3 linked regions of the Homo sapiens genome follow. The protein of the gene in region 2 purifies or fractionates together with the protein of the main gene of each other region. This does not show direct contact. Each region holds a gene or a part of one and is shown on either strand. Other genes may lie near its edges.

Region 1 (3,733 bases), on a different chromosome or scaffold from region 2:
ATGCATATTGTTTTGTATTCGGGTTTTTTCACTTAGTCATAAATAGTGAAAATCTCACCATAGCAGTAATATGTATCTTTGTAATTTTAATGACTACCTTAAAAAAACACTTTTGGGGGAATGCTTTTTGTTGGTTTCCTTCAATAACTGCCCTCATTATGTCCTCAACAAAGGAACATAAGCCTTTGTTCAAACATAGGTACATCCACAGATGAATGAGAGAACCACACTGTTGAAAGGTAGATAAGCATGGGATTAGTGGGGTCAGGAAGAGGACCCAGTGCCCTCAAAATTCACCTCCTGCACAGACGGAGAATGTTAGAGATTTATTTCTTAGGTTTGACTTTGTTAAAACAACCTCTCTTAAAGCAGTGTCAGTCATTAACTCTTTGCATAAGAGCATTCTCTTTGTTCTTTCCCATTCAAGGGTCAATTTCTAATCCTGCCGGTCCTTTCCACCACCAGATTCACTGCACACTGGGTAGATTATCTAACTGGGCCAGATAAAAGCTGTTAGTGATGAAGAATTGTCTTAATCAGGATACTAAATTCTATTTCAAGACTTAATTTCTTATTCCACCCTAAGTTTATCCTCCCCAAATCTCCCACAATCATTATTTCTTTTCCTATCATAACATCTTCTCTTTCCATCCAGTTTCTTCTGCTCTTCCACTCTTACATTTTGTTAGGTTACCCCAACCACTTCTGTCCCAGTTCGGAATCCCTTATCCTAATTGCTTTTCACAACACATTCCAGCTCTCAGGTTTATAGCCCTCAATCTCCATGTTGGAAATACGAATTTGTTGTAAGTGACCAAGACCTAAATTAATAGTGGCTGAAACAAGATGGAAGTATATTTCTCTCCTATGTGAAAATCCAGACATACGAATGCAGGGCTAGTTGATTGCAATACTCCATGGGGTCCTTAGGAGCCAGGCCCCTGCTGCCTTGCTCTCCCATGCATGGCCCACTTTCTTACACTCACTCCATGACCCAAGATGGCCACCCCATCTCTAGTTGTGGTGTCTGCATTCCAGCCAGTAAGAATAGGAAGAGAAGACAATCTTACCGGCTAGACCTTAGTCTCATAGCCACACCTGGCTAGTGGGAGGTGGGGAAATGTAGTCTGTATTTTGGGTCATCATGTGTCCAGCTAAAATTTAGGGCTCTACTAGTGTAAAAAAGGGAACATTGATCTTGGGGAACAAATGGCAATTGTCTGCTACATATATTTGACGTTTAAAGTTTTTTTAATTGTAAATTTTCATGGGTACATATATATGGGGTACATGAGTTATTTTAAACAGTCGTACAATGTGTAATAATTATATCAGGGTAAATGGGGTTTCCATCATCTCAAGCATTCATCATTTCCTGGTGTTACAAACATTCCAATCGTACTCCCTCAGTTATTCTAAAATGTGCAACATATTATTGCTGATTGTAGTCACCCTGTTGTGATATCAAATACTGGGTCTTATTCACTGTATCTAACCATATTTTTCTAGCCATTAACAATCCCCATTTTTCTCCTCTCCCCTTCTATTCTTCCCAGCCTCTGGTAACCATCATTTTACTCTCTATCTCCATGAGCTCAATTGTTTTCATTTTTAGCTCCCACAAATGAATGAGAATATGCCAAGTTTGTCTTTCTGTGCCTGGCTTATTTCACTTAACATAATGTCCTCCAGTTCTATCCATGTTGTTGCAATTGACAGAATCTCACTCTTTTTTATGGCTGAATAGTACTCCATTGTGTGTATGTATTACATTTTCTTTATCCATTCATTTGTGGGTGGGCACTTAGTGTACTTCCAAATCTTGGCTATTGTGAATAGTGCTGCAATTAACATGGGATGCAGACATCTCTTTAATATACTGACTTCCTTTCTTTTGCATATAGATCTACCAGTGGGATTGCTGGATCATATGGTAGCTCTATTTTTAGTTTTTGAGGAACTTTCATACTCTCCATAGTGGCTGTACTGATTTACATTTCTAACAGTGTACAAGGGTTCCTCTTTCTCCACATTCTTGCCAGCATTTTTTATTGCCTGTCTTTTGGATAAAAGCCATTTTAACTGGGGTAAGATGATCTCTCATTGTGGTTTTGTTTGCATTTCTCTGAAGATCATTGATGTTGAGCACCTTTTCATATACCTGTTTGCCATTTGTATCTCTTCTTTTGAAAAATGTCTATTCAGATCTTTTGTCCATTTCTTAATCAGATTATTAGGTTTTTTCCTATTGAGCTGTTTGAGCTCCTTATATATTCTGGTTTTTAATCCCTTGTCAATTAGATAGTGTGCAAATTATTTTCTCCCATTCTGTGGGTTGTTTCTTCACATTGTTGATTATTTTCTTTGCTGTACAGAAGGCTTTTACCTTGAAGTGATCCCATTTGTCCATTTTTGGCTTGGTTGCCTGTTCTTGTGGGGTATCCCTCAAGAAATTGTTGCCTGAACCAATGTCCTAGAGAGTTTTCCCAAGGTCTTCTTTGAGTAGTTTCATAGTTTAAGTTCTTAGATTTCAGTCTTTAACCCATTTAGATTTGATTTCATTCTTTTGCATATGGATAGCCAGTTTCCCTAGCACCATTTATTGAAGAGACTGTCTTTTCCCCAATGTACGTTCTTGGCATCTTTGCTGAAAATGAGTTCACTGTAGATGTATGGACTTATTTCTGGGTTCACTATTCTGTTCCACTGGTCTATGTGTCTGTTTTTTATGCCAGTACCATGCTCTTTTGGTTACTATAGTTCTGTAGTATAATTTGAAGTCAGGTAATGTGATTCCTCCAGTTTTGTTCATTTTGCTGAGGAGGCTTTGGCTAATCTGGGTCTTTTATGGTTGCCTCGAATGTGGCTAGAGACGCTTTTCCAGACTCAGGTTCAAGATAGAAGCACAGTAAATGTTGACTAATTAACACCAAAGAATCTGAAAACATATTTTAAGTCACTCATCAGATTTCTCACAAGATTTCCCCAAATTTAATAACTATTTCTTGATTTTTCTTCAGAGATGGATTTATAAAAGCTATTGGTCCTGCTGATGTTATTCAAAGACAGTTTTCTGGAGAAACTTTTGAAGAAATAATTGACTGCTCTGGGAAATGTATTCTACCAGGTATTTACCTCTTTTTCAGTAAAGGTCTACAAGTAGCTTTAACAGTTGCTCCTGAAATGTAAAGAGGAAGAGTAACAGCTTATTTTAAAGTCTCAAAATAATATTTAAAAAAAATCATCGTTCCATGTATTGAATTTCTATTATTGAATGTATAGCTGCTTTCAAACATGGTTTCACCTTGAATCCTTATAACTGCCCTGTGTGGGAGGTATCATTATCTATACTTTACAGATTAGAAAATTGAAGCTAAGGGTGAAATATGTTACCCAAGGTTCCTAAACAGGAAACAGACAACCTAGGAATCAAGCCCATTCATTCGACTCCACTTCTTCCCACTCACATGCTGAATAGAAACCAGCTGTGTTGTGTTTAGGTTCAAAAACAGTCAAAAGAACTTTATTAATCCATGGCATAGGAGAGGCTAACAAGGCAGCTGCTGTCTCTAATACTAGAAATACTCTAAATTTGTATAGGATGTGAAACAAAGGATCCAGCTCTGGGCAGAAAAAGAAAAACAAAAATCCTAGAGCTTTCACTGCAGTTCACTTGTATCTTTGATGATTGACAACAGAATCAGTTTATTAACCATCATCTCCTACATTATGT
Region 2 (3,733 bases):
TACCCTATCTCCATTTTCTAACAATAAAAGTTGATGCATTGTAAATATGTAAGCAGCAGTGGGTTGCCCCCCGCTCCTCCACCGCACTGCTGCAGGGAATAAATCTATGATAGAGCCAAAAGAATTGCCCAGGTGTCTCCTAATCTAAGCCTTCAGATCTCTCTTTATGATCATTCCAAAAAATATGCCTGTCTTGGTAGTTTGCTGTGTTCCTCTTCTCATAGAGACAGTGTTCAGTTTCACTAATGAGTAGCAAACAATTTGCAGGAAAGCACCTGATTGATGAATGGAGAGCCACTTCCTTAGGCTGTGCCCATTCTTAATGGCAACTGAATCCAATTAGTTGTTCAACCAAATATTTACTGAACTCCTATTAGAAGCAAGAGACTCTTGAGGGATTCAAAGATCCATAGGATATTGTTCCTGCCTGCCTTCAAGTAGCTTACTACCAAGGCTGTCTCCATTTTGTGAAAACTTTCCCTAAAAGCTATTTCATTTAATACTTTGAGACTAAACACTATTATTATTCGGTATGGATATAGACATGGTCACCTTGATTTATTTTGTTAATAATGTTTTGCTCCTTATCTATATTATTTTAAAATGTACCCGGGTACAGTGGGTCGTGCTTATAATTCCAGCGACTCAAGAGACTGAGGCAAGAGGATCTTGAGGCCAGGAATTCAAAACCAGACTGGGCAACATAGCACCTTGTCTCTAAAAAAAATTTTTTTTAATTAGCCAGGCATAGTGGCATGGTCCTGTAGTCCCAGCTATTCAGGAGTCTAGGGTAGTAAGATTGCTTGAGCCCAGGAGTTCAAGGCTGCAGTGAGCTGTGATTGCACCACTGCACTCCAGCCTGGGCCACAGAGTGAGACCACGTCTCTAAAAAAATAATAACAATAAATATATATTTTAAATAAAATGTAACTCTTCCTTGGTTAGGCATGGTGGCTTGCACCTGTAATCCCAGCAATTTGGTGGAGACTAAAGCAGAATTGCTTGAGCCCAGGAGTTCAAGACCACCTGGGCAATATAGTGAAGACTCATCTCTAAAAAAAATTTAAAAATTAGCTGGGCATGGTGGCTCATGCCTGTAATCCTAGCACTTTGGGGGGCCAAGGCTGGCAGATCACTTGAGGTCAGGAGTTCGAGACCAGCGTGGCCAATATGGTGAAACCCCGTCTCTACTAAAAATACAAAAACTGGCCAGGTGTAGTGGCATGTGCTGGTAATCCCAGCTACTCAGGAAGCTGAGGCAGGAGAATCACTTGAACCAGGGAGGCAGAGGTTGCAGTGAGCCGAGATCGCGCCATTGCACTCAAGTCTGGGCAAAGCAAGACTCCATCTCAAAAAAAAAAAAAATTAACCAGGCATGATGGCACATGCCTGTAGTCCTAGTTCCTCAGGAGGCTGAGGCAAGAAGATCATTTGAACTGGGGAGGTCAAAGCTTCAGTAAGCTGCGATCATGCATGCCACTGCACTCCAGCCTGAGTGACATGGTGAAATTCCATCTCTGCAAAAAATACGAAAATTAGCCAGGTGTGATGGCATGTGCCTGTAGTCCCAGCTACTCAGGAGGCTGAGGCAGGAGGATCACTTGAGCCCAGGTGGTGGAGGTTGCAGTGGGCCAAGCTTGTGCCACTGCACTCCAGCCTAGGCAATAAAATGAGACGCTGTCTCAAAAGAAATAAAAAAAGTAAGCTCTACCACAATGCCTGGCAGGGACATATAAATTTACACAAAAAATAGCAATTTTATTATTGTCACTGCTATACACAATATTACATGTATATTATGACCAGTGCAGATGAAATTATACCTGCCTCTCATGTAATCTGGACATTATGCTCATAGTATTGTGCTCATGATGCTCATAGGCTTTCTAGAGAAGATAAACCCTTCATCTAGGTTTGGAGGGAAGAAAAAGCCATGGATTGGTTGGAGAGGATAGGAGAGGATACCTCTAATAGAAGGGAAAACAGTAGGCATTATACTAATTATAGTCCAAGATTGTGGTTGCCTAAATTCCTAAGTCATTTTTGACTCATCAAGTGAGGTTATTGACTATAAATAGGTTTTTGAGTCCAAATAGAAATTTACATTTATCCCTGATATATGTAATCATCTTGACTCAATCCTTTTTTTTTTTTTTTTTTTTGAGATGGAGTCTCACTCTGTCACCCAGAATGGAGTGCAGTAGCACAATCTCAGCTCACTGCAGCCTCCGCCTCCGAGGTTCAAGCTATTCTCCTGCCTCAGCCTCCCAGGTAGCTGGGATTACAGGCACCTGCCACCATGCCAGGCTAAGTTTTGAATTTTTAGTAGAGACAGGGTTTCACCATGTTGGCCAGGCTGGTCTCGAACTCCTGACCTCAGGTGATCTGCCTACCTCAGCCTCCCAAAGTGCTGGGATTACAGGCATGAGCCACCGCACCAGGCCTCAATCCTCTCTTTCTAATCTGTGGAGGCTGTTTTGAATTCACTGACTCTTTTGTTCACTGAACGCTTACTACATGCCGCATAGTTCTAGGACGTGGAACTATAGCAGTGAACAAAACAGACAAAGTTGCTGTTTTATTAAGCTTGTCTAGTGATCAAAGAAAGATAATAAATATATGTCAGGATAATAAGCTCCATGAAGAAAATTAAGGAAGGGTGATGGGGACATTATCTTACTTGGGGCAGACAGGAAATATTTCCCTCATCCAGTGAGGTTCGGGGCTCACGATAAGTGAAGCAGTGAGCTGCACAGATGCCTGATACAAGAATGCTTTAGGCCGGGCGCGGTGGCTCATGCCTGTAATCCCAGCACTTTGGGAGGCCGAGGCAATTGGATCACTTGCGGTTAGGAGTTCGAGACCAGCCTGACCAACGTGGAGAAACCCTGTCTCTACTAAAAATACAAAAATTAGCCGGACATGGTGGCGCATGCCTGTAATCCCAGCTACTCGGGAGGCTGAGGCAGGAGAATTGCTTGAACTCTGGAGGCGGAGGTTGCGGTGAGCCGTGATCGTGCCATTGTACTTTAGCCTGGGCAACAAGAGCAAAACTCTGTCTCAAAAAAAAAAAAAAAGAATATTCCAGAAAGAATCGGGGAAATGCTGGAATTATGTCTATTTCCTTTTCTTTTTTTTCCTCGCTCTGTTGCCCAGGCTGGAGTGCAGTGGCACGATTTTAACTCACTGCAACCTCCACCTCCTGGGCTCAAGTGATCCTCTTACCTTGGCCTCCCAAATAGCTGGGACTACAGGCATGTGCCACCATGCCCTGCTAATTTTTGTAATTTTTTTGTGTAGAGATGGGGTTTTGCCATGTTGCCCAGGCTACATTTATTTCCTTAGTTCTCCCTCCCTTCCAAGTGGTCCCCTAAAAAGTAAAGTGGAAAAAACTATAGGCCTAATCTGGACCTTTAAAGCCTAAACCCAATTTAGCCTCAATGAACTTGAGGGAGCGAAGAAACTTGAGGGTCCAATTTTTGTGGGAAAAGATAAGACTAGGGTAAGGGAAACAAAAAAAAAATCTATTTCTCTTTCTCTTTTTTTTTTCTTTTTTTTTTTTTTGAGATGGGGTCTCGGTCTTTTGCCCAGGCTGGAGTGCAGTGGCACGATCTCAGCTCACTATAACCTCCACCTCCCGGCTTCAAGTGATTCTCCTGCCTCAGCCTCCTGAGTAGCTGGGATTACAGGTGTGTGTCACCACACCTGGCTAATTTTTGTATTTTATTTTAGC
Region 3 (3,500 bases), about 100 Mb from region 2:
GGTTCAAGTGATTCTTCCTCAGCCTCCCGAGTAGCTGGGACTACAAGCATGCGCCACCATGTCCAGCTAATTTTTGTATATTCAGTAGAAATGGAGTTTCACCATATTGACCAGTCTGGTCCTGAACTCCTGATCTCAAGTGACCTGCCCACCTCTGCCTCCCAAAGTGTTGGGATTACAGGCGTGAGCCACCATACCCAGCCAGAGAGAAGACTTGTAGAACCACTTAATAGTTTAAATTAATTACCACAATATTAAGGATCAGTGCTGCTTTAGAAGCAGCAAGGCTGGGCCAGGTGTGGTGCTCATGCCTCTCTAATCCCAGCACTTTGGGAAGCCTAGGCAGGAGGATCACTTGAGCTCAAGAATTTGAGACCAGCCTGGGCAACATGATGAGATCCTGTCTCTATGAAAAATTATAAAAATTATCTGGGTATGGTGGTGCGTGCCCGTGATCCCAGCTACTTAGGAGGCTGAGGTGGGAGGATCACTTGAGCCCAGGAGGTTGAGGCTGCAGTGAGCCAGGATTGTGCCACTGTACTCCAGCCTGGTGACAGAACAAGACCCTGAGTCTCAAAAGAAAAGAAAAAAAAATGCTGGAGTGTTTGATTTTGAGTTGTTATATTCTGGTATCTAACCCCAAAAGAGATGGGAGACATTGTGACTTCCTTGGTAATTAAAATTTAACTGGCCCAAAAAATATAACTGTTAAGGTAAAGGATTTTTGTTTGGGGGAAAGGCTATAATTTAATTATTCAACTTAGCTTTCAAGAACAGAAAAGTATTTATATAACTAAATATAGAATAATAATGGCTGTCAACATCTAATCCAACTGAAATAAACTTTAGTTTTCTTATGCCTCCAAAGTACCATAGAAAAAGAGAAAAGACAGAAATTAGAATCTAATAATAAGCCATTGGCATGTGCCTAACATGGTGCCTGAACAACTGTCTTATCCTAATAGACTATAAAGATGTTTAAATATATGATTTGCACATGAAAAATGATTAAGATAATATTACACTTAATATTTTTATTAAGGTGATATAATTGATGTAGGTACCTGGAAACTGGGACAGGATAATGTTGATAACTAACATTTATATAGTCGTTAAAATTTACAAAGTATTTTCATGTATCTTCATATTCTTCCCATCTAACTGAAATGTTGTGTCCTTTAACCAACATCTCCTCAGTCTCCTACCTCCCTTCAGTGGCTTCTTTCATGTTGATGTATAAAATCAAACAGTTCCTGGTTGCTGCTTCAAGATCTTTAAATATTGTTAGGTAGAGTTGTGAACATTTTTCTTTCACAGTGCCCCAGAGCCAACGGTCACATGTGAATTCTGAGTTTTATGGAGGCCTGCTATATCAGATCCATCAGATCCACGTCCAACCCATCAACCACTGAACTTTCTTTTTTCTTTTTTTAGACAGGGTCTCGCACTGTCGCTGAGGCTGGAGTGCAATGGCACGATCTCAGCTCACTGCAATCTCCACCTCCCGGGTTCAAGCGATTCTTGTGTCTCAGCCTGCCGAGTGGCTGGGACTACAAGCGCACACCACCACACCCAGCTTATTTTTGTATTTTTAGTAGAGATGGGGTTTCACCATGTTGGCCAGGTTGGTCTCGAACTCCTGACCTCAAGTGATTCGCCTGCCTTAGCCTCCCAAAGTGCTGGGATTACAGGTGTGAGCCACTGCGCCTGGCCTGAACTTGTCTTAAAGCTACTCTCATACTGGAAAAGCTTAAGGTACTGGGGCACCTCCTTGCAGGATAGTTGTTCCCCTGAGGCAACCGTCCAGTAGAACACATCTGAAACATGTGTGAGTAAGCAACTATCGTGACAATCACTTTTAGAACATTTTCATCAGCCCAGAAAGAAAATCTATACTCTTAGTAATTGCTCCCCATTTTCTCCCAAGCAGCAGCAGCTGCACCACCCCTACCCCCATCTCACCCTCCAGCCCTAGATAGCCAATATGTAGTCTCTTGTGACTGGCCTCTTTGACTAAGCATATTTTCAAGGTTCATCATGTTATAGCATGTATCACTTTATCACTTTTTTTTTTTTTTTTTTTTTTGAGATGGAGTCTTGCTCTATCGCCCAGGCTAGAGTGCAGTGGTGCGATCTCGGCTCACTGCAAACCTCTGCCTCTCGGGTTCAAGCGATTCTCCTACCTCGGCCTCCCTAGTAGCTGGGACTACAGGCATGCACCACCACACCCAGCTAATTTTTGTATTTTTAGTAGAGATGGGGTTTCACCATGTTGGCCAGACTGGTCTGGAACGCCTGACCTCAGGTGATCCACCTTCCTCAGCCTCCCAAAGTGCTGGGATTACAGGCTTGAGCCACCACGCCCAGCCAGGATAGCATGTATCACTTTTGATAAACTCTTGAAGGTGCTCTTTATTCAGCATCTTTTAAAAACACCTTTCCAGTATCGGGTACTTCTGTGGAGTTCTTGCTTTATAATCTAGTCAGTTGTCCTGCCAGTGATATCAGCACTTCAGTTTCTAACTTTTGGATACAGGGATTTGTTGCCGTATGAGTAGATTAACAACAGAATCTATACCATTTTTTTTTTTTTTTTTTTTTGTGAGACAGAGTCTCACTCTGTCCCCCAGGCTGGAGGGCAGTGTCGCGATCTCACCCCACTGCAATCTCTGCCTCCCGGGCTCAAGTGATTCTTGTGCCTCAACCTCCTGAGTAGCTGGAATTACAGGCATGTACCACCATGCCTGGCTAATTTTTTGTATTTTTAGTGGAGACCGGGTTTCACCATGTTAGCCAGGCTGGTCTCGAGCTCCTGACCTGAAGTGATCCGCCCGCCTCAGCCTCCCAAAATGCTGGGATTACAGGCATGAGCCACCGCACCCAGCCTATGCCGTTTCTTAGTGGAGACTTTTCACTTTGCTTTTCTGCCTTTAAGAGATACATACGGACAGGCCTAGTGGCTCACACATGTATCCCAACACTTTGGGAGGCCAAGGTAGGAGGATCACTTGAGGCCAGGAGTCTGAGACCAGCCTAGGCAACATAGCAAGACCCCATCATTTAAAAAAAAAAAAGAAAGAAAAAAAAAAGAAAGAAAGAAAAAAGAAAAATTAGCTGGGCATGGTGGTGCATGCCTATAGTCCTAGCTACTCAGGAGGCTGAGGCAGGAGAATCACTTGAGCCCAGGAGTTCAAGGCCTAGTAGTGAGCTATGATCACACCACTGCACTCCAGCCTGGGTAACAGAACAAGACCCCGTCTCTTTAAAAAAAAAAAAAAAAGAGACAGAGACATTCATACATATATCTAAGTCTACCTACTCTCAAAAGATGCTAGATATTACTATTATTCTCCAATGAGTTTTATGACATTTGCAGTGATTCTGTTTTATGCTTTCATTCTTTTAGTGTCTTCTTGTATATGGTATTAACAATTAAGGAACTTTATATATTTATGAAGACCCTTCTATCAGTGTGAGAGCATTTCATGCATATTCTTTGT

The links.
Region 1: the proteins of SYT11 (region 2) and AMDHD1 purify together in Homo sapiens (affinity purification with mass spectrometry; one large-scale study listed by BioGRID and IntAct). This does not show direct contact.
Region 3: the proteins of SYT11 (region 2) and TMEM59 purify together in Homo sapiens (co-immunoprecipitation; one large-scale study listed by IntAct). This does not show direct contact.

The regions. Positions count from the first base shown.
Region 1 is NC_000012.12:95,949,697-95,953,429, forward strand, and holds part of AMDHD1 (probable imidazolonepropionase), read left to right. Parts: intron 1-3,020; coding exon 3,021-3,127; intron 3,128-3,733.
Region 2 is NC_000001.11:155,862,567-155,866,299, forward strand, and holds part of SYT11 (synaptotagmin-11), read left to right. Parts: intron 1-3,733. UniProt on the Homo sapiens protein: Synaptotagmin family member involved in vesicular and membrane trafficking which does not bind Ca(2+). Inhibits clathrin-mediated and bulk endocytosis, functions to ensure precision in vesicle retrieval.
Region 3 is NC_000001.11:54,032,705-54,036,204, reverse strand, and holds part of TMEM59 (transmembrane protein 59 isoform 2 precursor), read left to right. Parts: intron 1-3,500.